2 separate regions of the Homo sapiens genome follow, and region 2 is linked to region 1. The links come from fine-mapping of genetic effects on gene expression. A gene starts in region 1. The other region holds a variant in brackets. All regions are shown on one strand. Distances are from middle to middle.

Evidence for each region. PIP is the estimated chance that this variant, and not a neighbour inherited with it, causes the effect.
Region 2: its variant is fine-mapped to the expression of LINC01550 in blood mononuclear cells (TOPMed, PIP 0.97).

What each region holds. Positions count from the first base shown.
Region 1 is chr14:97,971,264-97,987,014 of GRCh38, reverse strand. LINC01550 (long intergenic non-protein coding RNA 1550) reads left to right here and starts at 8,891. Exons shown (of 3, transcript NR_015430.2): 1 at 8,891-9,038. RefSeq lists an enhancer at 8,392-8,891.
Region 2 is chr14:97,954,016-97,969,766 of GRCh38, reverse strand. LINC01550 (long intergenic non-protein coding RNA 1550) reads left to right here. Exons shown (of 3, transcript NR_015430.2): 2 at 220-494. Among named protein-coding and RNA genes, the nearest start is that of LINC01550, 16 kb to the left of the region's middle. The variant T/C (reference allele first, on the strand shown) is at 5,677.

The DNA of each region.
Region 1 (15,751 bases):
TAAAAATAAAAACAAAACAAACAACTCAGCAAGATTTTCTACTGTAAAGGACAGTAAATGATAAAAACATGATTGATTAATTGAGAGACTAATTGATTCTTATCTTTTCTACTTCTAAGAGGAAGCCAATATAGCTGGTAGAAATACATATGCAACACGTATAAAATTAAAACAGCAAGAAAATGGCTAAATATATCCCCTTGTGTATGTTTATGTTTATGCATCCAAGCAGAAAACTCTCTAGCAGTTTGTTATCAAATGAATAGTTCAGCCCACACATATTTATTAACTGCTTATTATGTTTAAAGCACAGCTCCATTCCCTAAATGCATACAAGGAAGGTGGAAGACACTCTCTGTCCTCAGGAAGCTTACCGCACTGATAGAAAGGTCAGATTTAATTGCCAAAAAAATTAGGGATCCACCAGATGGTCATATGTCTTGAAGGTGACTATTTGACTGGAGGCCAATGGTCTGGGATCCAGAGTACAGCCACCAGCATAGAGCACTGTGACTTTGGGCAAGCCATTCCCTCCTCCAAGCCTCAGTTTCAGCACATATGAAACGGTGGTAATGATGATGGTTTGAGTAGATGGTGTCTAATACATTAACATGAGCAACATAGAGTATTAACTACATAAGCTATGAAAAATTTGATAAGCTAGAACAGTGAGCACTGTTCTCTACACAAGGACCATGGAGATGAGTGAGCTCTAGTCAGGGACCTCAAGGAGAAAATGTCTCCTAAGGGGAATAGTGACACAGATGGACAATTACAGTTCCAAGGAGCAAATGCACCAACAAATAAACAAACAGAGGGGACTGTGGGCCCTCAGAGAAGAGACAACTGCAGAAGTGGCTAGGAGAGCTTCTGAATAAGGCAGCATCTGATATCTAACCCAAAGTTTAAAATAAGGGACACATAGACGAATAAACTTTTTTTATTTTTTTGGCAGAGGGTAATGATTTGAACAAATGCAAAGCAAGGAACCAACAATAACAAAACACAAAGGTAAAGAGATAAAATACAGCATAGTCTATGTGAGGAGGTGTTCATTCATTCCTTCATTCCTTCACTCATTCATTGGAGATCACAGTGAGCCAGGCCTGGTCCCAGGCTCTGGGGGCACTGTGAAGTTCCTGATCTCTGTGAGCTCATATCCTAGTAAAGAAGACAGCCAATAAACAAATGGCATAATTTCAAGTACAAATAACTGTTGAGGAGAAAACTAAAGTATGTGATGGGGCAGAGTGTGGTCTGCTGTTTTAGATAAATGGCCAGAAATAAATGGCCTCTTCAGAGAGGTGAATTGTTATATATGAATTCTAACTCCAAAATAACAATATACAGCAAACACCAGTTGCTGAAAGACAGAGGGAGAAGAAAGGAGTGGTCAGTGGAGAAGATCACAAAGGGTGTTGGTCCTGGAGTTGACTGGATGCCCATTAGTGATGTTCCATGGTTGGTTTTGAATGTTGACAGCAGGGCTGGAGTAGCTGCCTGGAAGATGGAGGAAGGATTGTGTTTCAATAGTCCAGGAAGGCCATGCGGATCTCTGAACAGGAAAGGGGGAGGATGATGGGCAACAAGACAGACATACACTGTTCCTTAGATGGCGAATCATCCCCTTGAGGTGGGATAATAGTAGAACTGGTCGTCAAGGGCAGACTCACAAAAAAAGTTAAAAGCAAGACCCAGGGGTATGAGATAGGCAGTGAGCCTGGCAAAATAGCTTGTGTCAGACAGAGCTTGAGCTAAGTATACATGAATTATAGAATCAAACCTGATGCTCCAAAGACAGTAATTGTCCCAAGGACATGATCATTTTTGTTTCTTTGACAGGATGTAGTAGGAGTTTTTGCACAATCTTTTGGGGTCAGCTAACCTTGGCAAATCGTGCGGTCACCACCTGCTCTGGCTCACAAAGGCCAAAAACGGCAGAGGTGATGCTGGAAATGTTGATAGTCACCAGACATCTTCAAGTACGGGTGAAGCCCTTCAGGGTTTTGCCACCTAAGCTTCTCATTTCCTAGGAATTCAATTCAAAAGCATTTACTGAGCACCTACTGAATACCACTGGCTATGCCTCAGATATTTGAATGACTAAGATGGTGGTCTATGGATAGCCATTGGATTCATTAATGGATTGATTGCCCAGTCAATTTTTCTATAATATACTTTTATACATATCATCCACTTGTCTGCTTTACAAACTGTGTAGGTTTTCCATCAGTTAGAAACACAGATTACCATTTATCTAGGTGCCCACAAGAAAGCATAATCTCAGATCTTCTACTTTCCAACAAAACCCATCTTTAGAGAAATGATAAGACTGCGGGAGGCACCTGTTATTTATCCACTCATATAAGTTGCTGTGCTGAGTTAAGTTCTTTTATCGAGTTAGATCCCTGGAAAGATATAGACTTCAACCATTTTTTGTAGCCCCTTGACAAACCACCTACTTGGAAGTAATGTTTTGTTACATCTTTGAGTTTTATTGAGAGTCATTATGGAAAACAATCCTATGAAATTAGGTATGCATTTATTCTAAAAGCAAGTGTTTTGGACTTTATCCATGATGCTAACTAGATCTTCCAGAGGATTTGTTTTGTGTCCTCTTTCTTAAGAACAAAACAAAAATAAAAGCAAACATTTGCAATTGACCATATTTTCCCTTTGCTTTGGCTGCCAGGGAGCTCAAGAGCAAATTGGGGTGCAGATAGAGTAAGTACAAAAAACCTGGTGGTTAGCTGATGCTACATGCTCTCCTGTTTATGTATTGAACTTCTATTCCTGGCCATTAGCTGTTTAAATGTATTGTATGTGAGTTCCTTAAACAGTTTCCCAAAAGGAAGTCCAAGGAGATGAACTCTGTTTAAAATGAAAATAAATAAAGTCAGTATTTTCTTGTCTTCTTTGCAATTTCTGCACAGGTGGTAATCCAATCTCTTGAGCTAGAGTTTAAATTCTGGAGAGGAGCAGCAAGACTTTATATTTTATTCCTTCTCCCTGCATTTTCTAGGATAATGCTGAGCATGTAGAAGGAACAAAAAGAACGTGGTATTACTAATTGCTGTTCATTTAACAGACGTCTTGATGGCAAGATGCTTTCGATGTATTTCCAGTGGGTATTTCCCATCCTTGACCCTCATTCCTCAGATGGAAACAAGACCCCCATAGAATCGATCTTCCTTCCCCTCTGTTTGGGCAAAAAGAATGAGGCTTTTGGGATGCAGGCATCTTGCTTGTTTCAATGTTGGTTCCTGTGGCTGGTATAGTGCCTGGCGCAGAGTAGGAACTCAATAAATGTTGTTTGTTAAATGCTTTATTCTGGCTAAAGGTGCACACAATAGATAACATTACCGTCTTCTACTAATGTTAGAGAGGATCTATTTTTGATCCTGAAGTTCATTTAGGGCCTTTCCCTTGTTATTTTTTTTTTCTTTCCCCCTGCTTTTCTCTTGTTTTATCCCTTGGCCTAGAAGGGATAAGACAAATTAATTTCAGTCATTATTGTATATATGACTGTCTTCCTTGGATACCCAGTCACTGCCCATGTCTACAGCTTGCTTGTGCTTTTAGATGGTGTCCAGAGGGCAGGACTGCAGCAAAGTTTCCGGCTGCTATAGCACCAGTGGGGGAAATGAAAATAGCTTGCTCTGGAAATGACAGCGAGTTTCTTGGCAAATCCCTTTGGTACAGTTTTAAAGTCTGCACTAAGAAGACCTAGACACCCTAGAATTTTGTTGCTCGGCATTCATTTTGCCCCAACTTCAAGACCAGCCTGGAGAAAAAAAAATGGGATAGTGATGTGTCACCAAGATGGCTGAGCCCTCCCACCCCCTGCCAGAAAACAAGCTCTCTGTTAGATATTGATAGCTAGACCATCGCTATGAGGCCTGCAACGTTCCTGTGAGAACTATGTCATTTTCATAGGTGAAAAGTTCAGAGAAATTAGTGACTTGCCCAAGATTTTATGCATGTTTTTGGAAGAGCTGACATTAAAACCCCCATATCTGCTTAATTTCAAATTACACGATCTTCTCTGCACACCATAAAATGGGCACAGATTTTCTCCTGTGGCCTCCCAGCCCCTTGAACTTCTGCAGAACACCCACCCTTCCTTATACCATTGCTCTTACTTGACACGTCCTACCTTGGTGGTAGGAAAGCAGATAAACAGTAGATTCACTTATCTATACTCTATCTGTCTATACCTCTTTACAACCCCACCATTCCATCTTCATCACTGGAGTGATACTAACACAGGGGGTGTCCGTTCTGCTACAACATTCAACATTTGGCCATATCTTCATTGGGCATTTCCCATCCTTGGCTTTCATTTCCACAGATGAGGAATGAACCAGGATTGCAAGGAATAGAGTTATACAAAATATTACATTTGCCCATAAGGGTTTTATTACCTGTTAGGTTGAACTGTATGGAATTGCCAACTCTTGATTATTTCTGACAGTTCCATAAGATTCAAGCTAATAGTAAAGCAAGAAGAGAGTAATCATTTAGTGGGTGCACACTGTAAATTATAGGCCCTGTGTTGGCTGATTTCCACGCATCCAGTAGTTTACTGTTCACGGCAGCACCACAAGCAACCCCACTAAAGACCTGAGATTCAGGAGATCATGTCGTTGCCCAGGGCCACATTTTTGGGAAGCATCAGAGATATTATTAAACTCCTAGCTCCTTCACTCTGAAACCTGTATCCACATCACAATTTCAGCAGTGCTAGGACCCTGTCTTTAGAATTTTGGGGGTTCTGAGTGGAATTCATTGGTGCTGATATCGCAGGCCCTAGGAAGTTGGTGTTTGCTGGTATCGTTGTAGATACTGACAATCCAGGGTGATAGTCAAGCTATTTTAAAGCTATTAAGTTTAGGGCACTACCAAGCAAAACTGACACTTGACCAGTCAGAATGGCTGCTGGCTGTCAACCATTAGAGATGCCTTAAAGGGAATTAGCATTCTGCTGATAAAGAAGGTATGGTGGTTGCTGCTATTCTAGTTTTCTGTATGCTGTTGTTTGCAGGGTACTCAATAGTTTGGATTATTTGTCAGCTAAAACTCATTCCCCTCTTCCCCAATACTACCGTGCAGAATTTCCTTCCCTACTTCCTGAGGTTGGGCTTGGCCATGTGGCTTCACCTAACCACTGGAGTGCCTGTGGACATGATGCAATCAGAGACCTTAGATGTGCTTGCTCTTCTCTGCATTTAGGCTATAACATGTCTGAGGTAGCTGTCACCCCTTAAGCTGGGATCCCAGAACAAATACACATTGAGTGGATGAGAACCCAATCTATAGCTTAAAACCATGCTCAGGAGACATGCAGTCTGCAGCAGAGCTGATCAGCTGAGACAAGTCTAGCTCAACAGAACCACAGTAAACCTAGAAACCAATGAGCGTGAGAAGAAATACTTAGTCTTTCAAGCATCTGAGCTGGGATGATTTGTTATACAGCATTATTGTTGCAATTGCTGACTCAGGCAGGATTGTGAAGCTCAGGGTATGGCCTTTGAAACTGCATAATTCCAATCTTTGGCTCCCTCAAGTTTAGTCTCCCCAAGTGTAATGCAGCCACATTTATGTTTTCTTGCAAGACTTTCGCTTTAACCAAGAGTTTCAAACCTGATTGTCATGACCATGCTAAATGCATAATGGTATCAACAACTAGTGCAAAATGCCCTAAACGTAAAGTGATATGAATATTTATACACAGTTCTCTGGAAGTGCGCATGTTTGTTTCCTCTGGACCCCATGGAAGATATTATTACAGACGGTCACACTCCTTATGAGCTTCATTGACTCATGTCAGCATTGGTGATAAACAGATGCAAACGGCAGTATAGAGAACATTTGGGATGCAAAGCTCTAAGCCAGTGTTTCAGGCAACACTCTCTGGGTGGTTTTAACAAATAATAACATCAAATAATAAATAATGGTATCAACTACCACTATGGCTGTTGCATTTTTTGAGTGCCTCCCTTGGCCGGGAACTGTGTATATATTACTCTAACCTATTACTCACAATCACACTCTAGGGAAAGCATTTTTAACCCCTGTTTTTCAAAAGTGGAAAATAAGACTCAGAGTGGTTAATAGATTTATACAAGGCCACACAGCTAGTGGGTGGCGGAGTGAGCAGAATTTCCATCTGACTCCATCTCCTTCCAAAAGTACAAAATGCACAAAAGTACGAAAATGCTTTTATTATGGATTGAAAATTTCTATCCCTCCAAATATATATCCTGAGGCTCTAAACCCCAGTATGGCCATATTTGGAAATGGGGGCTCGAAGGAAGTAAGACTTACTGAGGTCATAAAAGTAGAGTCCTGATATGATAGAATGAGTGTCTTTATAAGAGACACCAGAATGCTATTTCCCCAGGCACACACACCAAGGGAGGGCCATGTGGCTGTCTACAAGACAAGAGGTGAGCCCTCAGCAGAAACCAGGCCAGCCAGAAATGATCTTGGACTTGTCAGCCTCCAGAACACTGAGAAAATACATTTCTGGGATTTAAGTCACCCAGTCTGTGGTATTTTGTTATAGCAGCTCAAGCAGACTAATACATGTCAGTCCTGAGTTAATAATATTTCCCAGGAAGTCTCAGAGTACTATTAGGGAATGGCCCTTAAATACATGAAGTGCATGTATTAATTCCCAGCCTACCTCCTTCACCCTACATAAAGTGCAGAAAGGGTCAGGGTGTCACAGGGCCCGTTTCCTTCAATGCGTCTGTGGGAAGGACGTGTAGGTGCAGCCCACGATAGCTCAGAGAATGAGACCGGCTTCAGCTTGACCCTTTTTGCTCCAGGAAAGCATGATGTGGATCATATCTTACTTTACTCTCATAGAAATTTGCTGCTTCCTCATGTATAAATAACTAATCATGAGCAGCAGTGTGCTCCCTGTCAGAGCCTGATCAGGACCATAGAGGCAAGTGGGACTCAGCCTGGGTCTTCATGGCTGTGGGAGCCATTACTGCTCTCTGTATTCCAAGTGGAACAGTCCTGGTGTAAGGGTCTTGTTTCAGTGTCTGTGAGCATGAATGGGTGTGCGTGTGTGCACACGTGCATAAGAAGCTTGTATCCTTTCTTCTTCTAGTGAAAGGAAATCCCCTGTACCTGGGGATTGGGGGAGATAGTGAGGTGTTGGGGAGCAAGAGAGACTACAGGAAAAGATGAGGTGCTGAGGCCCACCAACCTGTTTGTCCTCACCCTTTCCATCTGCTGAAAGGTGCCTATTGGGCGTAGAATTGTCTCCAGCCCACTTCATTGGACCAGGTCATCCCAGTTAGCCTGACTGTCCTGTTTGCAGGTCAAGTATAGAGGGAATTTTGCCACAGTAAAACATGCTCTATTTTCAAGTCATATGTGAAGAAAAAATAAATGAAGGAAGGATGAGGAAAAGACCAAATGCTGCCAAGTGTCCACTACAAGCTCTGGTTTTCTGCGGGGGCCACTGAAAGGTGTACAAATTGTTCACCATAAGCCAAGGACACAAACATGTGTGTGCGTGTGTGTGTATGTATGTGTGTTTGATGCCTTAGCACAGCTCGTGTTTGATGCTTGTGATGGTTCTATTTATAAACTTTGTGCTCTCAGATGGGACAACCAGAGGCACTTCTTTCCTGCATTTCAAGTGTTTCATTTCCTTTTTAACATGTCTTTTAAATTAAGGGCATGCACACCAATGCATGGGCTCACTCTCATCTTACGGCAAGTTGATCAGACTAGGGTTAGTTGTCTGAGAAACATGGGTGGCCTTTGTCACAAACAAGAGGAGAAGCAGTTCAGGGAAGAAGAAGACTAAGGACTAGCACTGTTGTTTTGGTGGAGTTGTTTGTTAGCTGACTGTCTACAAGGCACATGTTCTATCGAATATTCAGTGTTGGGTGCTGACTGTGTTACGAGCCTTGTACATAGGATTTAAACCCCAGAGCCACTCTGTGAGGCCAGAATTGCTTTGGGATCTTTCAGATGAGGGAACCAACGTGAAGGCTTTAAATCCTATGTCCAAAGCCACACAGCGAAACCAGAGTGAAATCCGGAGCATTTGAATCAAGAGTTGAATCTTCTTTCCTCCCCGGAGGGAGAATCGCCCAGGGGCTGAGTGCAAGGGGAAAGGCTGGTTCTGAGGGGAAGAAGCTGAGCATGTTGCGGCACAGGACTTAGAAAAATTTAGAAGCATCTGCAATTGTTTTCCAGGGGAAGATACCCAAAAACAATCCAGAGAAGGAAATAAAACGAGAAGAATAGTAAGGCAACATGGAGTATAAAAGTTGCTGCATTTAGGGCGAAGGAGAGAACCTCTCTGCTCCGTGGCGATATTAAAGCTATCCCCAAGAACGGGAGGTGGGAGTGGCCTGAGGGATGACTCCTCCAGCACTGCTGCCTGCCAGCTCCGGGCTGCACAGGGCTGAGCCGGCGCCAAGAATGCCCTCTTCTGGTGATATTCTCGAAGCCCAGGAAGATAGCAAGGCAGCCGAGACCTGTGTTTTCCAGATCCTGGGTAGATTCCCTTGTCAGATGTGGTTCTACTTAAGCAAATATCACTACCTTCTCTTTTTCCTCCTCAGCCCTCAAACTAGTGATAGGGAAATTATTTCAATAAGGTAAGCTGTACCTTAGTAGAGTTTGCTTCCTTTTTTTTTTTTTTAACCCCGAATAATACTCTCTATGTCATCTGTATATTTATGATAGCTCAAAGACATGGGTGTGTGGATCTAATTAAAAATGTGAAAGGGTTTAGCAGCCTGCTGCTTCCCTGCAACTCTCTGGTTGCCAAATCTTGGCAGCCGTGTTGAACTTGAGCCAAGCGTTTAGTCCTCAGCTGAACTGCTGCCAGCCTGCGCACGGCATTGTGGGGCGAGAGCCGGAGGGGCTGCACTGCACCGAGCTTGCACAGGGCGAGGCGGGGGCAGGACCTGGGACCCAGCCACCCCGGAGGAAACCGGAGAGGAAACCAGCTTGGTCTTGCTCTCTGCCTCGTCCCAATCCCCGGCTCTTACCAAATGCAGGTAGGACCAGCTAGGCCAATTTGGTGACCGGGTAGGGCTTCAAGCTACTAGGTGGGAAATGGTCCCTACAGTTTTGCTTTCATTTAGTCGAAATCGGGCCTTTTCAGAGGAGAAACAGTTCTCCACTCTCTTGCAGTAGTTTGGGCCTGAGTTTCAACAGTCGGATGGGGCATTTCTATTGAGTTCTCTGCTGTCAGTCTGAGCTTTTTTTGATAGCTTGGCAATTGTTCTGTGTCTTCTCTCTGAAGCAGCTGAGTCCAGCACAGGGTTTCTCAAACCCTGTTGTGCACACATGTCACTTGGGAAATCTTGTGAAAATGCAGGTTTCTGAGTCTCCCCGGGGAAAGGGGAGAATTCATGTTGCCAAGATCAGAACTGACTAGAACTGCTTACGTTCCACATTATGACTCCAGACTGGAACTTTTGTGAATTCAAGGATGTTAGGCTCTGGAAAAGTACATCTTGGTGATTTGCTGTCAGAGGGAAAAACAATTCAAAGAACTCAGCATTCTCCACAATATGTTGACAAAAATAAGGGGAAAAAAAAAACATCAAAGGCATGGGTCACTTTTTATTTTTTTTTGAAATGTACCAGCTATAAGCAAATTAAAGAGGAAGAAAGGGTCGTATTCTTTGTATACAGAACACCCTCCTGCAGAGTGAAAATTCAACCCTAAAAAGATCTTCTAATATACTTGAGGGGCTGAGAGAGAGGATGAGGGGGGACTTTGCCTTTTAACTTTATATCTTGTGTATTGTTGATTTTTCATGATGATGCATTTCTTTCGTAATTAAAAGAAGAGGCAGCAGCTGCAAGACGGCCCAGGAGCCTTCTTGGCAGTGACCTTCCCCAGGGCAGGCCACCAGGGTGGGGCAAGTATGGACTTTGAAACCACTTTGTCCTGGAGTGGAAGCAGGCTCTGGCATTAAGCTTGGGGAATTTGGCTAACATTGCTGGGCCTTTGCAATTTCATCTGTGCAATGGAGAAATTGGGCCTTCATTGAGGCACAGCTGTGGGTGCCGCAGACATGTTTGTGCGGGGCTCATACCCAGGGGTCCTTAACAGGCGTTTTAAAAATTCAGAGTCTCTCTCCGATGGGGTTAGGACACTATTCCAGATAGAATTTCACCCCGGCAGACTGCTTCTGAGCACAGATATGTTCCAAAACCTCCGGATAGGAGCTAATCACTTTAGAAGTCACAAAGCCTCTGTTCATGATGTTAGAGGAGCTCCCCAAAAACGAGGCCTTGGGGAATAGCAGTGAATTTTCTCTTTCTTTTCAAATGGCAAATTTATACATATGAAAAGTCTAAATGACATGGCAAATAAATCACAAGTAGTCATAATTTAGCCGGCCACTTTTATTATGAAACAATCAAAAGCATGCAGTCGGGACGATGGAGGGAGATGCAGGCTGTGTGGCCCCTGTGCAATTAGGGGGCTGATACTTCCTTCATATCCTAAGTTGGGATGGCATGTCGCTTGCTTTGTGGTTTGGAATAATGCAGAACTGGCTGTTTCTATCACAGAAAGAGGGAGAGGGTGTGTGCCGCCAAGAATCAGGATATTTCCAGGAAAATTTCACTCCAAGAGGCTTTCTTGAATCTCATTCCTAACATGTGGGCAGATGATTGTCTAAACCACTGAGGGATGATGCTGGAGGTAAACATCTAATTAATTAAAGAAAATCTCCTTCTGCACCCCAACTCCGAAAATGCCCCGCAGTTGAGAAACACTGACACACACTCACCCACACTCACCCACACACTCACCCACACTCACACACACACTCACCCACACTCACACACACGCGCCCACACTCACACACACACTCACACATACACTCACACATACTCACACATACACTCACACACTCACCCACACTCACACACACACCCACACTCACCTACACTCACACACACTCTTACACATGTATTTGTAAAAAAAAACTCCCTGGTGACTGAGTCCTTCGGTCCACCTGCGTTTGTTAATTCCAGGTTACAAACACCTTGATCTCCATCACCCTTCTTCCAAGAATGTGTGACCACAACCCCTTCGCTCTTCCAAGCAACGTTTGCTCCAACTTAATATTCCGGTGCTTTCGGGAACAACATTTTAAAATAAACCATTTTGGCACCTTGTCAAAGTCTTGTCTAAATTCCTTCATGACAACCACTCTCAGTGAGATTTTTAAAACCAAAGGGAGTTGGGGGCAGGGAAAAGAGGAGTTCCCCGTTTAGAGTCCTAATTTTAAACAGTATCAAATAAGAATGTATTTATTTCTCCCGCCCCCTCTGTAGTTCCCTCCTGTTCCCACAGGGCATCCTCAGCCCACCTCTATCCTTCAGTCCATATCTTTATTGTCCCCTCCATGGGGTCTGGTCATCTGGGTCAGTGGGAAAGGGTCACTGGCCATTGGACAAAGAAAGGCTGGGCAGGGATGGGGCCTCGGGCAGGTGTTGAAATGTAGTTCCTGGTGTTTGGTAGTAATCACTACAAAACAATCCTGTCTGCTCCATTCCTATCAACAACCTGCTCTCCTTGGTCTGTTGCTAAGAGACCAGCCTGTTGTTTACAAGATCCTTGGTGGCGTAGACTTCCATAATTTATAATTTATTATCTTAGTGTCAAAACTTGTGTTGGTTTTTATTTTATTTCACCATAGATCCAATTATAGTTAGATACAACAAAGGTCATGCATCTGCCGGTGGCACAGTGACTGCACCAATAGTATCCCTCACCACCCCTAAGTTTAGGTGCTGCAGAAGAAAATGCTATTATTAACTGAAGATGAATATCATTTTTTGTCCACTAACTTCATGCATTATATGAGTGTTCAGGTCAATGGATTCCCTCAAGATTTGCTCACTACTGAAAACATGTTTCTGTCCAACCAAGAAGGAAATGAATTGAAATGATTTCAATTATCACAAGAAAGGAATTGAGTTTTCTTGCTGTACAGTTCAACACGTATTGACTCAACTCACCAATCCTCTCCCCGCAAAGTTCAGGGCCATAGACATTTATCCAGCACTAGACATTACTCTGGAACCACCGTAGGGTTTTGTGGATCCACAAAACCACCTTGTGAGGATATTCTCTACTTAGAATAATTCAATGAATTCAGAAAGGAAGTGATGGCACAGAAGAAAGGGTCATTGAAGTAAAACAGCTCAGTCTCAACATATCAGCTAAGAGAAGAAGAGAAACAGAAAAGTGTTAAGATCATTGCCAACATGTATTGTATCAGGCACAAGGCTAAGTGTTTAATCTGGAATAACTTATTAAAAGGTACTGACAGATCTATGAGGAAAATTCTAGTATTAGTCTCATTTTTACAGACAACAAAATCAGAGCTTTCTACCTTAAGTAAGGCACTCAACAATGCCTAGCTATTAAGTGACAGGATGGAACTCAGGCTGAGAGACTCTAGGGCCATTTTTTATTCTCATAGAAATTTTTAAAATATGTATCAGCCTGGGCTTTGGAGTTTTTTTGTCTGTTTGAGAAGAGTCCCACATACATTTGATGAAACAGGGCAATGAGCATAGATTCCAAAACCTTCCACATTATCCTCTACAGAGTCTTCATCATCTCGTAGAAAACACAGAGCATGAGAAATTTCTAGGAAGGGCATTTTATTTTCCCCGTCTGAGAGCCTGGAAAATTCTAATGCCGTTTTACTGGGAATTAAGCTTGTTGTTTTCCAGAAAGCAATTATGGCAATATTTCATACCAGCATTTTGCATCACTTAATTCCTGCCTGCTCCCTGGTGGGTCGTGGCCAGGACAGAATACTGTGCACAGATCTCCTGAACCCTCTCTGGTTGGGGTTGGCAGACTCATTTTTAGTACAGTGATGGAAAGAGATGAATAAACAAGCTAGGAACTATGGACCATCAAAGAAGCAGTCATGACATTGACGATGACTGAACCACTTCTCAGGCCTGTCTATTTGCTTTTCCTCCCCCAAACAGGACATTGTTCTCATTCAGAAGTGCAAACCCTTAGACTGGAACCCACGGGCAGACCCCAGTGAATAAAGGAGTGGAGTGCACATCCCTCAGTTTATTTTCTGAGGCCATTTCTCTGAGACTAGAACCTTCCTGAGGGTGCAGATGGGGTCCTCTTCATCTTGGTAGCTGTGCACATCCATTTAAGATTCAGAATCAGTAGTTTGGGGTTCAAGTTCTCATCTACCACTTAGTAGCCTCGTGAACTAAGGCAGGTTTTAAACTCTTACGTTCCTAGTTACGACATTTGCAAAAATGGTGATGATAATACTGTCTTCTTCACAAGGAAGAGAGGATTAAAATGAACAACAAATGCAACGTGAAATTGGAGATGGAACTAGATAAAAGTGATTAACATCATTACTCAAATGCCAGGACCAGTAAAATGCCTGACAAACAATAGCCTCTCATTCAGCAGCATGTGTAGCTATGAGATCGTAGTCAGTCTATGTGTGCCAACACTATGAAGCATTGGGATCCAGAGTTGGAAGACAGACCATTTCTGCCAATTGTTCACAGCACATGGAGGAGAGGAATGTGTAAACAGTTACCCAGAAATATACATACACTTCTATGGAGACCAAGATTGAGACGTGACCTGTAACGCATTAACTTTTAACTCTTATGCCTCATTTTCTTCATCTGAGAAATGATTCAGTCATCATTAAGTCATGACAGCTTCTTTGATGGTCCATGGTTTCTAGCTCATTTATTCATCTGTTTCCATCACAGCAGTGAAAAGGAGGCTGCCAACCCCAAGCAGGGAGGATTCGGGAGATCCATGTATGGTATTCTGTCCTGGTCATGACCCTGCAAGGGACATAACTGCCTTGTCACCTGGACAATTGAGAGAAGAATATCACATGCCATGTTTCACTCAGGAAGCACTCAGTGCCTATGGGGGATGGGAAGTGAAGAATGTCTGGGGACGCTGTCCCAACTGATCCTTTTTCACTGGCTTTTAATGGGGGTTTCTAGAAAGAGAAGCACTTATTCATTGATAAAAATAAAACATAATTAGACACAGCCTCCTCTGCCCCTCACCTGATGGAGTTTTCAGCAATATCAAGAAGAACCACCATACTGATAATGCAAATCTTGATTCCCTCTGCTCCATTACACTCCCTTTTAGTCTCACTTTTGGTCCATAGCAATTCAGCAAGCTAAGGAGTCAGGAAGTAGTAAGGTCAGCCAACTGTTTCACCAGGGTGATGCCAGATAATACCAGACAGTGTGATCAATGGATAAAGGGAATGTGAATATAAAGAAGAAAAAAGCCCCTTGGCAACCAGAATGAGTTGGGCTAGAAATTGAACTCAGCAACTGTTAAAATCTGACCCACGGCAAGGCAAGCTTCCCAAAGGTGACTTCACAGTGTCGGCATTAGTGTTGATTATATCACGTGGGTTAAGGTCTTAGAACAGAGGAGATGTTCGGCAGAAGGCAGCTGCCCTCCCTACCAAAGACTCTGAAAGACATGATGCTGTCAGAGGTTGTGCCATGGTCTATGATCATGGTCTCTGATTCAACTCCAGAAAGTCAAATCGAATCCATCGCCAAGATTTGGTTAACCCTTCATCCCCTGTCAAATTCCTAATATCTAGCCATTGCCTCTACCCACTGCTTCTGGTTTTGTTTTTGTTTTTTTATGGAAATAATAGGCAACAATGATCAGGACTAGTTTCATTTTAATTCAACTATCCCTTGCTGGAGTCTAAAACTGTCCTCCTCTTATCTTCCTGGAAAAACAGAATTGTCCTCCCTGTTGCCCAAGACAAGCCCCAGAATACCCACCCCCTGAATCCCCTGCATTAATATCTAAAGCATACCCAGTCTCTTTCCTAAATATGTCTCCTCTCCACACAGTTCTATAGTCTCTAGGGTTATCACTACTAAAGATACCTTTCTGAACTAGAATGAAACATGCTCCTTATCTTCTTGTAAAGCTCTAAGGTCCCCACATTTGATAAGACAAGACTCAGGCTTCTTAGCACAGACTTCCACTCCATTCCAAATCCCCATGTGCCCATATCCTCCCAGGCACCCCTCCACCACAAACCCATTGAACCTGTGAAATGGAATTTCTTCTTGTTCTTTAAACACATCATGTTGGGCCATGACATGGACTTCACATATTCAGGTTCTCATGCTTGGCATGACTTCTCCTTTCCCAGAAAATTCCTTTTCAGCCTTCAAGACATAACCCTAGTGTTTCTTTTTCTAAATCCTCCTGGCTTCTCTGGGCAGTTAGGTCAGGTATGTTTCTCTTATTCATCTCTGTATCAAAAAAGCTGAACCCATAATAGAGTCTTAGTACTTGTGCCCTGACCTATCCCATTATCTTGAAGAATATTCCTGGGTCCTGCCTGGGACTTCCTTAATAGCCCCTAGAGCTGGGTTTCTTTTTTGCCTCTTTCAGTGTTCTTCTTATTCTCCTTTCCAGGATTGTCTTTCTCTCCTAGCCATTAGATGTTGATGTTCCTCAAGGTTTGCCATAGGCCATTTAACATATCATAAATAATTTTTATATTATCTCATTTACATTATCTCCTGGGATCCCTCTTCTTCCCAGACTGCATTAACCACTCATGGTGATGACTCCGGAGCTTCATTCCCAGACCTGATTCTCTATAGACTCCAGACCTTTGCGTTCATATATGTGATGACTGTCTTTAGACTTGGCCATATCACAGAGCCT
Region 2 (15,751 bases), 17 kb after region 1:
CTACATGTTAGCATCATACATTTGTTCTGTTTTTTTTTTTTTTTTTTTGCAATTCTAGACCCTTGTGTCAGAAAGAGCAAATCCTCTAGCCCTTTGATCTTCACAATCCTTCAATTATCTTTCTGGTTTCCTTCTGTTGTCATTTAGGGTAAATACATATATTTGGTCTTTGTGTCCATCCATGAAAGGTAATCTCACTCTTCTTTTAATTATTTTTAGATCCGTTGGCTGAATGCCTTTTAGTCTGCATACATGCATCTCATACCGCACAGCCCAAATTTCTACAACTTGTCCAGGTGCAGTCTCCTCAGAACTACAAAGCAAGAAAAGATCACCTTTGGGCTCAGGAACTCACAGTCGTTCTCCCTCTCCCGGAAGGCACAATGACCAGGACAGTACCGAGCTTTACAGCCATATTGAACTCACCATCAACTCAGCACATTCAACTCAATCAGTCAAAATCGTCTTTTCCTGCTGGTAAATAACACTGAAATGTAAGTGCCAACTGTTAGTCTTTCTTATCTGGAGTCTTCTTCCCAAGTTTTTATTTTATGTGAAAGCATTGTGTTCTCAGCAGTTATTTTGGTCTCCATATTTTATAGCCAACCCCTTTGATTTAAAATATTACAGAAGGCTCTGTTCCATCCCTTTTTCTTCCTAAACTGATTTTTGCAAAACCCTTAATCTGGGCTTGAAGGAAATACAATCTTTTCCTACACAATTTTACTTCTTTTTTTTTTTTTTTTTTCAGATGAGTCTCACTCTGTTGCACAGGCTGGAGTGCAGTGGTGCAATCTCGGCTCGCTGCAACCTCCGTCTCCCGGATTCAAGCGATTCTCCTGCCTCAGCCTCCCGAGTAGCCAGGACTACAGAAACGCACCACCACATCCAGCTAATTCTTGTATTTTTAGTAGAGACGGGGTTTGCCTGTGTTGGCCAGGCTGGTCTCGAACTCCTGACCTCAGGCGATCCACCCACCTCGGCCTCCCACAGTGCTGCGATTACGTGAAGAGAAAGAATGAGAAATGCATCTGAGCCTCACTCCACCAAAACAACACACTTTCCCACCTCTCACTCCACTCCAATGAATGTCTATGAGTTTTCAGACTCCCTGTCAATGGTCTTAGGTAAATGCAGTAGTATCTGCTTTTTAGAATTTATAAGACAAGGGCCATGCTGGGTGCATTGGCTCATGCCTGTAATCCTAGCACTTTAGGAGGCTGAGGCAGGCAGATCACCTAAAGTCAGGGGTTTGAGACCAGCCCAAAATGGCAAAACCACGTCTATATTAAAAATACAAAAATTAGCCGGGCATGGTGGCATAAGCCTGTAATCCCAGCTACTCAGAAGGCTAAGACAGGAGAATCGCTTGAACCCAGGAGGCGGAGGTTGCAGTGAGCCAGGATTGCACCACTGCACTCCAGCCTTGGTGAAAGAGTCAGACTCTGTCTCAAAAAAAAAAAAAAAAAAAAGAAGAAGACAATGGCCAGTGCCTTAAAATGAGCAGAAAATTTTCTGTCAGGTATCCTTGGATCCCCTTCCTCTCCTGCAGCATATTGGGCTTACTTTTGCTCATTCCCTCATGCCTTAGCTTCTTCATCTGTCAAATGGAGAGAAAATACTCTTTCAGTCCTTTGTGTAGGAAAAAGTGATAATGGCTCCAGAAGTTTCCTGTCAACTCGGAAGCACTATATAAACAAATCAGACTGCCACCAGTAATCAAAAAAGGAAGGTCTAATACCTCAGACTTATAACTTGTATAGTAAATTTCTAGTTTAAGTTGTTCAACTAAAAAAGTAGAGGACATTTGGTTAAGAGAAAATGAGATTTCAAACACATTATGGTCAAGTTTAAATGGTATTGTTTGTTTCATTTTGCTAATGGAAGAAGGTCTAGTATTTTTCAAGAGTCAGTCATTGGGAACCAGCCCTTAATTGCAGAGTGTTATGGAAAGATCCATGGTGTCTAGGGTCTGTTGGGGAATTTGAGGAATTCTACAGCAAGAGCATTGTGCTCCAAGAGTACACAGCAGAGCTGGGGCTATCGCAATCCCATAAAACAGATAAAATCGGACTCAGAACACAGCTGTATTAGTCCATTCTCACGCTGCTATAAGGACATACCTGAGACTAGGTAATTTATAAAGGAAGAGGTTTAAGTGACTCACAGTTCTGCAGGGCTGGGGAAGCCTCAGGAAACTTACAATCATGGCAGTAGGAGAAGGAAACACATCCTTCTTCACATAGTGGCAGCAAGGAGAAGTATGAGTGAAGTGGGGGAAAAGCCCCTAAAAAAAAACATCAGATCTTGTAAGAATCACTATCATGAGAACAGCATGGGGGTAACTGCCCCCATGATTCAATTACCTCCAACCAGGTCCCTCCCATGACACAATATGTGGAGATTATGGGAACTATAGTTCATGATGAGATTTGGGTGGGGACACAGCGAAACCATTAACAGCTATCAACAGCTTTGTTAGCATCCAGAGAAGGCTGAAAGAGGAAGAAGAGAAAGATGTGGGGCCAGCACAGAAGACTTCCTGGAGTGACTGTGGCCCCACCTGGGTGCACAGGGGTCACAGCAGTCAGAGAGCATAGCAGAGAGAAGGCACTCCTGTGTGAGACCTCCAGGTGAAACTGGGGTGGGGGTGGAAAGAGTATTTATAAGAGATGAATAAACAGGTTAACAAGGAATGAAATGTATTGGGCTTTGAAAGTCAAATGCCATAGCAGCTTGAATTTGATCATTTCATCTGTAGGGAAAATGGGGAGTAGGGGACATTGGAAGGTGGAAAGGCCTAAAAAGCTCACCTTGAAAATCCATCAAGACATTCTTTAAATTTAAATGTAAAACTGTTACTATACCAATACTTATGGCTCCTTTTCCGAGAAAGCCCTCCCCGTGTCTCTTCCCTGCTAATTCCTGGCCATCTTTCTGGCCTTAACAAGGTGCCGTTTTCTCCACCAGCCCCACCCAAACATCTCTCCTTCTCACAGAGGTGGGTCACCCAGAGTGGTCCAAACTTCCCTAATCAAAACAGCCTTTACACATCCTGTGGCTTACAATTCCTTCCTACCCCTGTGACCCTCCTCTTCTTTCCCTATTTAACATTATGAAAACTCTCATCAGTTTGCATTCAATGAATCCTCACCTACTCTGTGCACCTTGTCCCACAAGCCTCCCCTGATTGTAAACCCTCCACAGAGGTCTCGGATGACACCTTGTGAGCCACCAGGCTGTGGGGAGATTCCTCTCTTCCCTCATCAATGTCTTTACCCAGTGAGGTTAAGAAAGCCAGGGCAGGCTGAACTAGGAATTCCCTTGGTTCTAACAGAAAATATGGTCACTTTAAATGACCTAATTGTCCTGTCTAAACACTTCTCTCCTGGGATAATTGAAAATGCTCTTTTAGTCTAGCTCACAATTCCTCACCTCCAGGCCCCCAGGGTTCCAGTAGGCGGGTGGTGGGAGTCCATTAGTCACTCACCTTCTGCCCTTTCTGGTCTCAGCTGGGCTCTTATCACCTGTACCTGGGCCTCCTGGTCTCAAGAGGTCCATGACTGCCTCTCTGTAAGCTCCAGCAAAAGATGGTGAGGTTCAAGCAATTGCCTTTCTTATTCTAATGAGCCTTGCTTCTAACAGAACATGAGAAGGGTTAGTGTGAGTACTCCAGAAGGAAAGAAATTAAAGGAGAGAAACAATAAATTAATGTAATAGAGTGGGCAGAAAAAAATGCTTAGATATGAGATATTCCTGGTTTAACTACATGACTTTCACATGTGATATGGTCTGTCACACCTTGAGCCTCCTTATCTGTAGAATGAAGATATCAGTTCACACTCTGCTGTGAGACTAGAATTTGTATGTGATGCACCTGGCATAGTGCCTCAGACACAGGCCCTAAAATTGGTACCTAGTCCAATAGTGGTTGTCATTATACCAAAGAGTACCAATGACTTTAAAAGCTGAGGTTTCTAGCCTTATCAGGACCCACATCTAGAGAGGGTAGAATTGTATTTTCCATACCTATTAGAAGTGGAGTCCTCCAATGTTTACCTCTTGGGCATTTTATAGAATTGAATGGTTTGAGGGGGCACTGAGACCCACCCCCTCTTCAGGTTACTCATACACTGTCTTGAAAATAAAGAAATCCATCTAAAAAAGGATAGATGAGTCCTGCTTACAATGGCCACTCTTAGAAAATATTAAGCCACTTCCCTGGATAATAAAGGAACAACAGAGAAGTGAACACATTCATGGTAGATTCTCATCCTAAGAGAGTAGCACTAAACCCTCTCCCTCCTGTTGTCAATGCCTCTTCAATTTAAAGAATGAACTGCACCTCATAAGAATTGAATTTGCTTATTGATTAATCCATATATATGCAGCACTTGATACCATAAGCCATCATGCTGGAATACAATGTGCTCTGAACTACAGGTGTCTAGTCATTTTAAGTATAAAAATTAGGTAATTATAGCCAGAAGTATTCATTAAAATTTGAAAGTAGATAAATAAAAGAGAACATTGATATCTAGTCATTAAACTTCTACAAATAAAATGTGAAATGAGAAAAAAATGAAACAAAACAAAATCCTTCCTATTATCTTCCCCTCAAATCCCTTTTTTTTTCCTTATGAATCAGATGCGGCATCTCCAGGGAATAGTTATTTCTTCCCTCTATGCATGAAGCAGAGCAGGTTGCGGGGGGGGCGGTGTCCACCCGGGAATGGGGGAGGTCCCTAAAGCAGAAGGTGGCTCCATCATCTGCAATTCCCATCAGAAACCTACCTCAAAGGCTATAGGTCAGACATTGTTTATGGGGTAGGGAGAAGGGCAGGGCTGGGGGGAGCCCACAGTGTGTGATTCTCAAAATGTTGAAAAGGCCAGAGCACAAATACATCTCCACAATTACACTTTGACTTTCTATAAGTGCTGTTTGGAGTCTGAGGAAGTCAGAGAGAGAGGGTGAGTGCTGAGTCTGTGCTCGCAAATTCTTCAGTGAAATGGGAAAAGACAAGTTAATGGTTAGTTGTCTCCATGTGGGTGGGTGCGGGTGGAAGGGCAGAGCTGGGAGATGGTAGGATTTCAACATCAGTTGAAAAAAACAGGCCACGCAGGCTCCCCCCAGACAAGCTGATTTTCCCCCAGTGAATTCACCAGGGAAAAGGGATTTGGAGGCAAGATCTCATTACTAATTTTGTTAAAAACCCACCTGCGAACACAGTGAAATGAATAGTCCCTGGGACTTGGGGGTTTTGGCTGTGTGCTCAGGTGTAGACAGACCTTAACCTCATCAGCTGCTTGACTTCGGGGCTCTTGATAAAATATAAGGTGTTCTTCAATATAAGGGGAATATGGATGCAGCTAGAAACCCAGCCCTGAGCTTGTGGATGGTCACCCCAGGCCAGCTCACAGTACCGATGTGAATCATCTGTGAGCAAATGATAATGAATGACAAAAAAGGCTTGTATCCAGAGGCAAACAACCTCAGGAGGTTATTTTCACTACCTTGCCCATATTTATATGTGGGGTCATGCATCTGTTAGGACTTTCTGTCCGTGGCATTTATTATCTCACGTTATATCTGAACATTTCCGAGGTTTCTGGCTACAGAGGAGGCTGATCAAGAGGCTTAATCATGTCATCAAGGACCTGGTTCTTCTAAGTCTG[T/C]TCTTTCTGTATCCCTTGGTGTTGGCCCTGTCCTCAGGCTCCATGTCATGCCTTCCTCAAAATCCCCAGCTCTCCTTTCACTGCAGCAAAATGATTGCCATAGCTCTGTTCCTCACATCTTTCTATCACTCCACCCATAGACAAGGAGGGTCTACTTTTGTGGCTGTGTCTGGTGGCCAGTCTCTAAGGTGATGCCCAGTGATCCTTGCTTCTTGGCATTCACACCCTTGTGTAATCTCTTCCTTTTGAGTGTGGGACAGGCTTGGTGGCTTAATGATTGAGATGTCAGGTCCCAGATTAGGTGATGGTAGATGGTGACATGCTTTTGTTTTTCCATCCCTTCTCTGACTGAGTGAGCAAGCTGCCCTGTGGAGGCCTCAGGTGACCAGACACTGAGAACAGTCTCTACCCAATAACAAGCAAGGAACTGAAACCTTCAGTCTAACAGCTCAGGAAGAACCAAGCCCTCCAACAGCCCCATGAGTGGGCCTGGAAGCAGACCCTTTCCTGGCCAAGCCTTGGGATAGCTGCAGGTTTAGCTGATACCTTGATGGTAGCCTGGGGATAACCTGGATGCAGAAGTCCCAGCTAAGCAACCTGGAATTGCTGACCCACAAAACCTCGGGGATAAAACATGCTTGTTGTTTTAGTCCAAAAAGTCTTGGGGTAGTTGTTATGCAGCAAGATATCATAAGCACACTCCCATAGAAAAGGAAAGGTGTTTCTTTTTTCAAGTTCCAAGGTGTTTCTTTTTCCAAGGACCGCATCCTTGATTCTTCTTGGCTCTGAATGCTGTATGTACGTCTCTAAACCAAAGGTTGCATTCAGAGATAATGACTTTGAGATCTAGAGACAGGAGGGGCCTGGATTTGTGATAGAAGGAGCTGGTCTTCTGTCTTAATGTTCCCTTACTTCCTAGCTGTGTGCTGGGATGAGTCACTGAGCCTCGCAAAAACTCCTCTTGCTCATCTATGCAGTAGCAGGTGAAATTATGTCCCCCAAAGAAACCAGGCCAAGTCCTGATCTCCACGCTTGTGAATGTGACTTTATTTGGAAATAGGGTCTTTGCAGAAGTAATTGCGGTCATCTGGATTTAGGATGGGACCCAAAGCCCAACAACTGGTGTCCTTGTAAGAGAGAGGAAAGGAAGATTGGACATACGCAGACATAGAAGAGACGACAAACAAGAAGGCCATGTGAGGATGGAGGCAGAAATGGGAGTGTGGCAGCCGCAAGCCAAGGAATACCAAGGACTGCCGGCAGACACCCAAAGCTAGGAGGGAGGCATGGGTGGGATTCTCCTTCACAGCCCCCAAAGGAAGTAACCCTGCTGCCGCTTTGATTTCAGAGTTCTGCCTTCATACTATGACAGAGCAGGTTTCTATTGTTTTAAGCCACCGTGCTTTGGTACTTTGTTATAGCAGCCTTAGGAAGCTGTTAATAACACATATGGGTAACAATAATCGGTGCTGCTGTGAGATCATGGATGCACAAGTCAGAAGTCTATATATAATAATTGTAGTGACCTGATGGCCAGGGCACACCTATTCTATCCCTCTCCACAATGGGATTCAGTGTGCCAAGAAATGACCTCTTTGGCAGAGGCTGGAAGAGTTCAGATGTGATGAATAGAGGTGGATAGCAAGTTTGAAAGCAGTTCAAATAGAAAGCATTGGATTTGGGGCCCAATGACCTGGGCTCACTTTCTTCTGACATTAGGCAAAATTGCTTCATGGCAATCAGCCTCAGTTTTGTCAATGCATGTAATAATAAACCAAACTTAAAACATTGTTACGGGGGGGCAGAAAGAAGAGTGAGAGGGTAGGAGAGAGAAAGAAGGGAGAGAGAGAGAGACAACGAGAGAATGTGCAGTTTTCTAGCACTTTGTAAATGTCCAGTAAATGCTTCTGTATTCACTGAGCTATACTTTTGGTCTGTCTTTATTGACTGTCATACCGTCTGGCTCAAGGCTGCCCCATCATTCCTGGACACTGTTGATGAACTATATTCACAGACTAGACATTAAAAAGTGCACTTGATCATGTTACTCCCCACTGACTGGGCTTGGAAGAGGAGTAAGGGAAGGAGGCAAAGATGAGGGTTTAAGTCCACAGCTTCTTGGTGGCAGTGACCAATAAATGTGACCATCGCATGCTTGTGCTTAAGTTATTTTAAACATTCCCCATTGTCATAAGGACAAAATTCAGGTTTCTGTGATCTGGTCCACTTGCTTACTGGCCTCATCCCCCTTATTCCTCTCTTGTATTTTAGTTTCTGCAACACAGCCTGACCTGTCCTGATTGAATCAGGTTCTGCATTTTCAATTATTATGCCTTGGCTTCTATTATTGCCACCGACTGGAATGTCCTTTCTCACTGACCACCTTTGTACTCTGCACACCGGTCTTCCCTCTCTCTTTCATGAGCTCTTTTTCTATCCCTTCCTCCTTGCCACCAAACCCCTAAGAACCACTAATGTTTTTTTTTACTTTCTTGATATTTTAGCCTTTTCCAGAATGTCTTATGATTAGAATCAGAAAGCATATAGATTTTTAACCACCTTTTACTTAATAATATGCATGTAAGTCTCCTCCATATCAATATTATTGCTGAATAATATTCCATGGTACAGATGTACCACAGTTTGTTCATTCCTTTACCTATTGAAGAACATCTTGATTGCTTCTAAATTTTAGCAATTATCAATAAAACCTTCCATGAATATTTGTGTGCAACTTTCTATGTGGACATGAGTTTTCAACTGCCTGCCTTTTACAATTAAGCTCAAGTGCCACTTCCTCCAGGAAGCATTGCCTGATTCCCTGGGGTCTGCAACATTGATCTCCCTCCTGTTTCCAGTACTCCAATGCACCTGTTCCACCATAGCACTTAGGGGACTGTACTACACTAACTGTTCCCTGTGTGTCACCCCAGTGAGACTGTGGGCTGTGGAATGAGAGTCCATGCATCTTGGCTTCCACAATACCTATATTAAGTGGTCAAACATATTTGTTCACCTAAGCTTTGACTGGGTTTTCTTTCCTTGAGCCCGGTCCATCATTTTTTACCCAGTGCCTTTAAAGAGGCAATTCCTGGAGTTAGGTATCAAATAAGAAGCAAGGTCCAAGTGGTCCTTTGTGGGTCATGACTTCTGGATCACAATTTAAGTGTGATATTAACATTTGGTGAAAAAAGGCAGGACTATGAACCCTTAATGGGTTCAGAAAGGGGGAAGTGGGGAGAATAGCAGTAGTCGTCTTCTGGGAATACTCACTGGTGTTAGTTACCCAGAGAGCAAGTCAGCCCACTAGGGTTCTGGGAAGGAACCAGGAGCAGCAGAGAAGATAAAGTTACAAAGAACGAATCAAACATAAAAACATAAAAAAAAATCAGAAAGGTTTTGTACAGATGTTAGAAATATAACACAAATTTGGCTCTGAGTTTCCTGGCAGCCCAAGCGCAGAAGGAAACATGATGAATTCCAATGCATGATACTCGCCAGATTCAAAAGGGAAAATGTCCTCAAGAAGCCTTTCTGTCCCCTCTATTGAGCCTGGAGATTTATTTTTCCCCCCATGGGTGTTCATTAAAGGAACACTACGGCATGACATGGAATCCTTATCCTAACAACAACAGGCCATAGAACACTATTCTTTTCTTCTATTACTCCATAGTGTGGGAAGATGGGATGGTAAGAACAAAGTCTGTCTCTGGAAGCACGGGCGCTGTCTCTGAAGACAAATTGATCGTAACACAAGCAGACCCGGTGGAACGACCTCCATGCTGAACCCTCAGCTCCCCCTGCATTTGGACCATGGCCTGATGGAAGGTGCGAGAAACCCTGTGACCACGTTACAGCACAGGGGCAGCTTGGCCAGGCCACCCCTTGGGCCTAATTTTTCTCCCTGGCCAAAGGGGTCAGACTATTCCAGTGCTGTCTGCTCCCTGGCCTCCAGAGTAATCAAACACACATGTTTGGCGCTCCACTAATCAGGGAATGAAATAAAGCTAGATGTTTCCATATGTTGATTCAATTTACAAGCAAAAGTAAGTGTCAGGTAGGGGGCACAACAGTAAGGGGTGAGCAGTGAAGAAATGATTCCACAATGACGTTTCGTAAGGAGCAAAAAGATGAGGAAGAAAAGGGGAGACACATCATTGAAGGCCAGGCTCTGTGACAATTTATATTTGCCTATATATCTGTATCTCTCTCTGTCTTATCTAATGAAATACCAACAACAACCTGAGAACAGTTCTGTCTTCCGTCACAGATAAAGAGACTGATCTCAGAGTGGTACAGATCTACAACCACGTGAAGAATTGGATTTATATTCATCTGACTCCAGAAAGTTCCTGAGATTCCTCTGCTTCATCATCTTTCCCATGCCCTTTAAAACACGTTATCAAATAGCAACAGGTGGTGCAATAACTAGACAAATGATTCTCAGCCTTTTTCTTTGCCATTAGCACTCCCGGAAGGAGACGTGTTGGACACTTTTCCTTGTCACCACCCCATGAACCTTCCATACCACAGGTATACTGTGTATTCGGTTATGTATCATCTGTACATCTGTTTCTAAAACACAGAAACAGTAAGAGCCCCCCATCCAAGAATCCATTTTAATCCTCTTGGGTGTGATGTCACCCCCCAAAAATGCATATGCTCTGGAGTCAGTCACAAACACATTACGAATGCATGATCACTTAAGAATGTTACCAAAGTTTATAAATTTGAGATGATAATTCTATGTTATTTAGTTCATTTTAGAGATAAGTAAGAACCAGAGATTCCAGAGAGGTAGACCAAGCTGACAGAGCAAGGAAAGGCAGAGCCAGACATGCAGCTGAAGCATCTGAATTCCCACTCTAGTGCTCCAGCTTAACCTGGATGATCAGTAAATGGTTGCTTTTCAATGTGCTCTCAACACTTCCCACACTGCCTCCTTCATTAATAAAGGAATGGTATTTTGGGAGAAACCAGAATCTGCCCTGGGGCAATAGAAAGGCAGCAAAGCAACCTGCATTCAAGTCTTTGGGGGATTTTTTGGAAAGCAGAGTGTATTAGTCTGCTATTGCTGCTGTAACAAATTACCATAAATTTAGTGGCTTAAAACAACACACATTTGTTGTCTTAAAGTTCTGGAGGTCAGAGCCCAAAATGGGTCTCATGGAGCTCAAATCAAGATGTCAGAAGGGCTGTGTTCCTTTGGAAGGCCCTTGGGGAGAATCTGTTCCATGCCTTCTCCAGTTCCTGGAAGTCACCTGCTTGCTTTGGCTGTGGGGCACTTCCAGCAACTGCATCACTCTAACCTCTGCAACCATAGCACGTCTCCCTTTTCTGACTCTCACCCTCTTCTTTCTTTCCCTTATAAGGACAATTGTAGTACAGGATAATCTCCCCATTTCAAAATCCTTTACTTAATCACATCTGCAAAGTCCGTCTTGGCCTATAAGGTGACATACTTGCAGATTCCAGAAATTAGAATTTGGACGTCTTTGGGTGGCTGTTATTATGCCTGCCACACAGACCAATGCATACACAATGTGACCAATCCATCATGATTTGTCTGAGACTATATTGGCTTTAAAGCTGAAAGTTCTGCATCCCAGGAATCGCCTCAGTCCCAGGCAATTCAGGACAATTCGTCGTCACCCTATGTGCACCTCCTATGTGCTCCTTCAACTTAGAGAGTTGGTGTTTTCTCTCCTCTTCAAAGGACTAACTCCTTTTCACCTAAAGAGTACACAGAGGCTGGGTGTAGTGGTTTAGGCCTGTACTCTGTGCATTTGGGACACTGAGGCAGGAGGTTCACTTGAGCCCAGGAGTTTGAGACCATTCACGGCAACATAGTGAGATCCTTTCTCTACAAATTTTTTAAAAAATTAGTTGGGCATGGTGGCACATGCCTGTAGTCCCAGATACTTGGCAGGCTAAGGAGGAAGGATCCCCTGAGCCCGGGATTCAAGGCTGCAGTGAGCTATGATAGTGCCACTGTACTGCAGCTGAGGCAATAAAACGAGGCCCTGTCTCTAAAAATAAAAAAAAAAAAAAAAAAGAAAAAAAGGCTGCACAGAATAGACTGATGGACTGAAGGCTCTGCCCTTATCAAACATTTACTAAGTAATAATTATAAGTTTGCCTCCTACACTGGGTGACTTCTCAAATTCCAGGTTGAGGTCATATTCATTTCTGCTGTCATAGGGTATTGTTGGGTCCCTGGTGCTTATATGTGATTTGGGAAATGCTTGCCGATGTGAATTGAAGAGAAGGATAGACAAATGCTTGGTTGGGAGGATGGCAGGAGATGGTAATGGGTAGATGGGTGGATGGATGAAAATATGAATGGATGGCTAAGAACGATCAGTAAGCTGGGAGAGCATCTCAGATCCCAACAGCATCTAGGCACAAAGCAATTTATATTTAATTTGCATTATTGTATGTCACCCCAGATGGGGAGAAAGACAAGGAAATGAAAAGAGAGAAGAGAAGGAAGGAAGGAAAAGAGAAGGGATGGGAAGAAATGGAAGAGAAGAGAAAAGAAGGCAAAAGAGAAGAAAGACAAAAGACAACCAATGAGATAAACAGAGAAAAATAAAGACTAGAAAAGGAAGAGGGGAAAGGAGAGGAGAGGAAAGGAAGGAAAACTCATGGGTGGTCCCCAGCTTAGACCACATGCCCACAACCAGCTCTGGATCCCAGAGGTGGGACTATGCTGGAATTCCAGAGGAAGAGGCATGCAAGCCAAGCACAGGCCATTCCATCAGTTCTTCTAAATTATTTCTCCAGTCCAGGCCCGCATCAGGGAGAGCATGTCTGTCGTGCATTTTAATCTCAGAGTTCTGGGCTGGTATTTGTCAGCCCCAGAGGAAAAACCACTTTTTTTTTTTTTTTTTTTTTTGCCCTTCTCACATGCTGGGCAGGCGTGTTACATTTTTTTTGGCTGTGAAGGCACTAAGTGTTTCTTGGCAGCATGTACGTCTGGAACTCAGCCTCTTCCCAAGTCAGAACGACCAGAGATTCAAGATCAATGGGTGTAGCTTTCAGGTGGGTTCCCTCTCCAGTGCCATCTTGGGGAAAGGCAGGAGGACTTTTGATTTTCCACTTTTCCAGCTGAGACAGCTCTCTCTCCCGAATGCGCATACGTGAATACCTCGTCTATTTCCATGAGCTTTCTCTTTTCATTATCGCTTCACCACCAATGGAGAAAGATCAGTAGAATATAATGTTGAAGACTCAGAGTCCTTGGAACTCTTTGGCATTGACAAATCGTGTTACAACAACCTCCTTTGCGTCTTAAACAGCCTGGCATTCTCACATTCAGCTTGGCAGCCTCATCAATATTCTGGAGAGATCTGAGCTCAAGGCCATCAAATGTGACACTTTGGTTGTTTAGTCGGGAGTGAATCTACTGACTGTGGCCTTAGTGACACCAAGGCTGGCATGTTGTGTTTTCTCTCAATTCATGGGCTTTTCTGATGTGTCTCTCAAATCCAGCCCTGGTGAGGGGAAGGAAAATTACCCAGACCCAGCTCTGTTCTGTAGGAGCTGCATGATTTTGAGAGAGTCTCTTCCCCTTTCTGAGCCTCAGTTTCTCCACTGGCATGGTAAGGTGCAGTTTGGACCAGGTAGTTTCTAAAGTCTGTTACATTCCGGCATGCCCAACTTCGTTTAGGATTGCTCTGAATGAATGAGTGTCCAGCCATGGTCAGGCCAATAGATAGGGTCAGAAAATACAGTTTGCCACATATGCAGTCAAGCGTTGATATAAATTGTCTGCCTGAATCCTGGCTTTGGTTGTTTGTGGATCAAACCATGCCCCCTGTGTGCACAGTAATGATTGGTTATGGCAACCATATGTCCTGGGTTTCCTCGGACAGCCTTGATTTCAAAAATTCTGTCCCATCGTCAAACCTTGTGTCAGATCATGTATCTCAATTTTTGATTCAGAAAGTATGGTCACCATATGGCAAATGCATCTCCACCACTGTGACATAGAGGGCTTGTCTTCATCCTCCTGCAAATCTCTGTCTTATTCTCCCAGGCAGACAAGGATGCATCTCCTCTCTGTGCCCACTCCTGTCACCACAAAACCTTCAATCTATCACTTCCATGTCTGTGTCCTGTGCTGGACACCAGGCTCCCTAAGGGCAGGAAGAACATTTGGTTCATCTTCATATTCTTAGCACCAGCTCTGAATAAACTAAAAGCAATGAGTCTGTCACATTATACAGTAGAAATCTTCCTGAAAAGATGGGGGCGTACATTTTTAAATTATAATCTCTTCTAAATAGAACCAGGAAACTTAGTACTCAAGGAAGAAATCATACATTTATTTTTTTCCTTCCTTTCCTTTCCTTTTCTTTTCTTTCTTTTCTCCAAATAATTATTTCAGATCTTCTAAAAGATCTGGACTTGCATATGCCATTTGCTGGGGGGGGTAAATCTTGGAAGCAGATTCTCCTGGCTGTATAGGATTCAGTCCACTCATGGCCAACAAACTGAGACATCAGAAGAGAGAATTCACCATTTTAAATCTGCAGTCAGCTGAGACTCAGTCCTGCAATTATATAATTTCTTGTGAATTTGTTTCATGAACTAAAGAAGGCAAAGGCTTTTTCAGGGTTACAAGGGGGATAAAGTCCATCTTACGGCCCTTGGAGGAAAATCTTAGTCACCTTTCTTATAATTCCTTTTTCTTGGCTGCTTTTAGTGCTAGCCCCTTTCTTTGAGTACTTTATCCTTCCTGAACTCTCTAGACATACGTGTCTCCAAGCTCCTCTCTAACCCAGATTTCACTCTGGCAGCCATGCTAAACTTTGATCCAATGTTGTCCATAACTTCTACTTATTTCCAGAGTAATAATAATACTTCACAGCATACCACTCAAGAGCTCTTATGGTTTGACCACCATCTATTATTTTACACCTTAGATCCTCAAAAGGCCCATACACCAACACCTTTTATCCCAGAAAAATCAAGAAATCCAGTCATTTTTACTATTGTCAATCCCAGAAAATAGCCCAACTCACTCTCATAGCTCTGAGTCTTTGCACAAACTCTTTCTTTTCTCTGGGACGAGTTCCTGCCTTCAGGTACCTTGGCACACCCTAGCTGTCTTTCAAAATCTTTTTTGATTATCCCTTTTATTGTGAAGGCTTCTCTCATTCAGTAAATACAGATGATGATGATGATAGTAATAACAACAATAATAGTGATGATAATGACAAAACTCACATGTGTTCAGCAGGAATTATGTGCTGGGCTGGGAGCTAAGTGCTTTTCAGACTTTACCTGATCTTACATTTTATAGCAGAAAAGAAAATTCAAACCCAGAAATATTTGCATAGCCAAACTAAGTCCAAGGACACATAGTTAAAATAGGGCAGACCTGAGGTTGGGACCCATTTTCTGTCTGACCTCAAAGTCAGAGTTCATAACTACTACATCCCACTTAGGCTCAGTCAGGTTCTAGTTTGGATCACTTCATACCCACAGAAGGTGCCTCTTGCTTGGTCATCCTCATGTTGACCAGCCAGCCTCAAGGATCTCGAGGACAGAGGCTCTGCCCTATAAATCTATTCTTCATTAGTCCTTCCTATGGTCCCTGACACACGGTAAACATGCAACAGAGTTGGCTAAAGAAATGGGCACAAAACCACTCTTTCATCTTGCTTCATTTTTGCCGAGAGGAATATCTCAAGGGGAATATATAGACACCTTCCACTAGATCTGTACATATATTCAAGCTCACACTTAAAAAGGGCCACCATAATCAGCAAGCAGCAAATATACCCTAGGCTGCTTCTAGCTGGAGCATAAACAGAACCCACCGAGGCTCTTCACTGGCACAGCAACTCTGTGCTCCCTAGAGCCTAAAGCTGATGAAGAAGTCTGCAAACCTTACCTTTCCAAAGAGCCAATGCCTAGAGGATGACAATATTAAGTCTGAATTCAACGAAAACTAACAAAGAAACAAACAACCCCAAAAGTAAACACAAAAGAAATAAAAACACTTTGGGAGGCCTAGGCAGGCAAATTGCCTGAGCTCAGGAGTTCGCGACCAGCCTGGGCAACA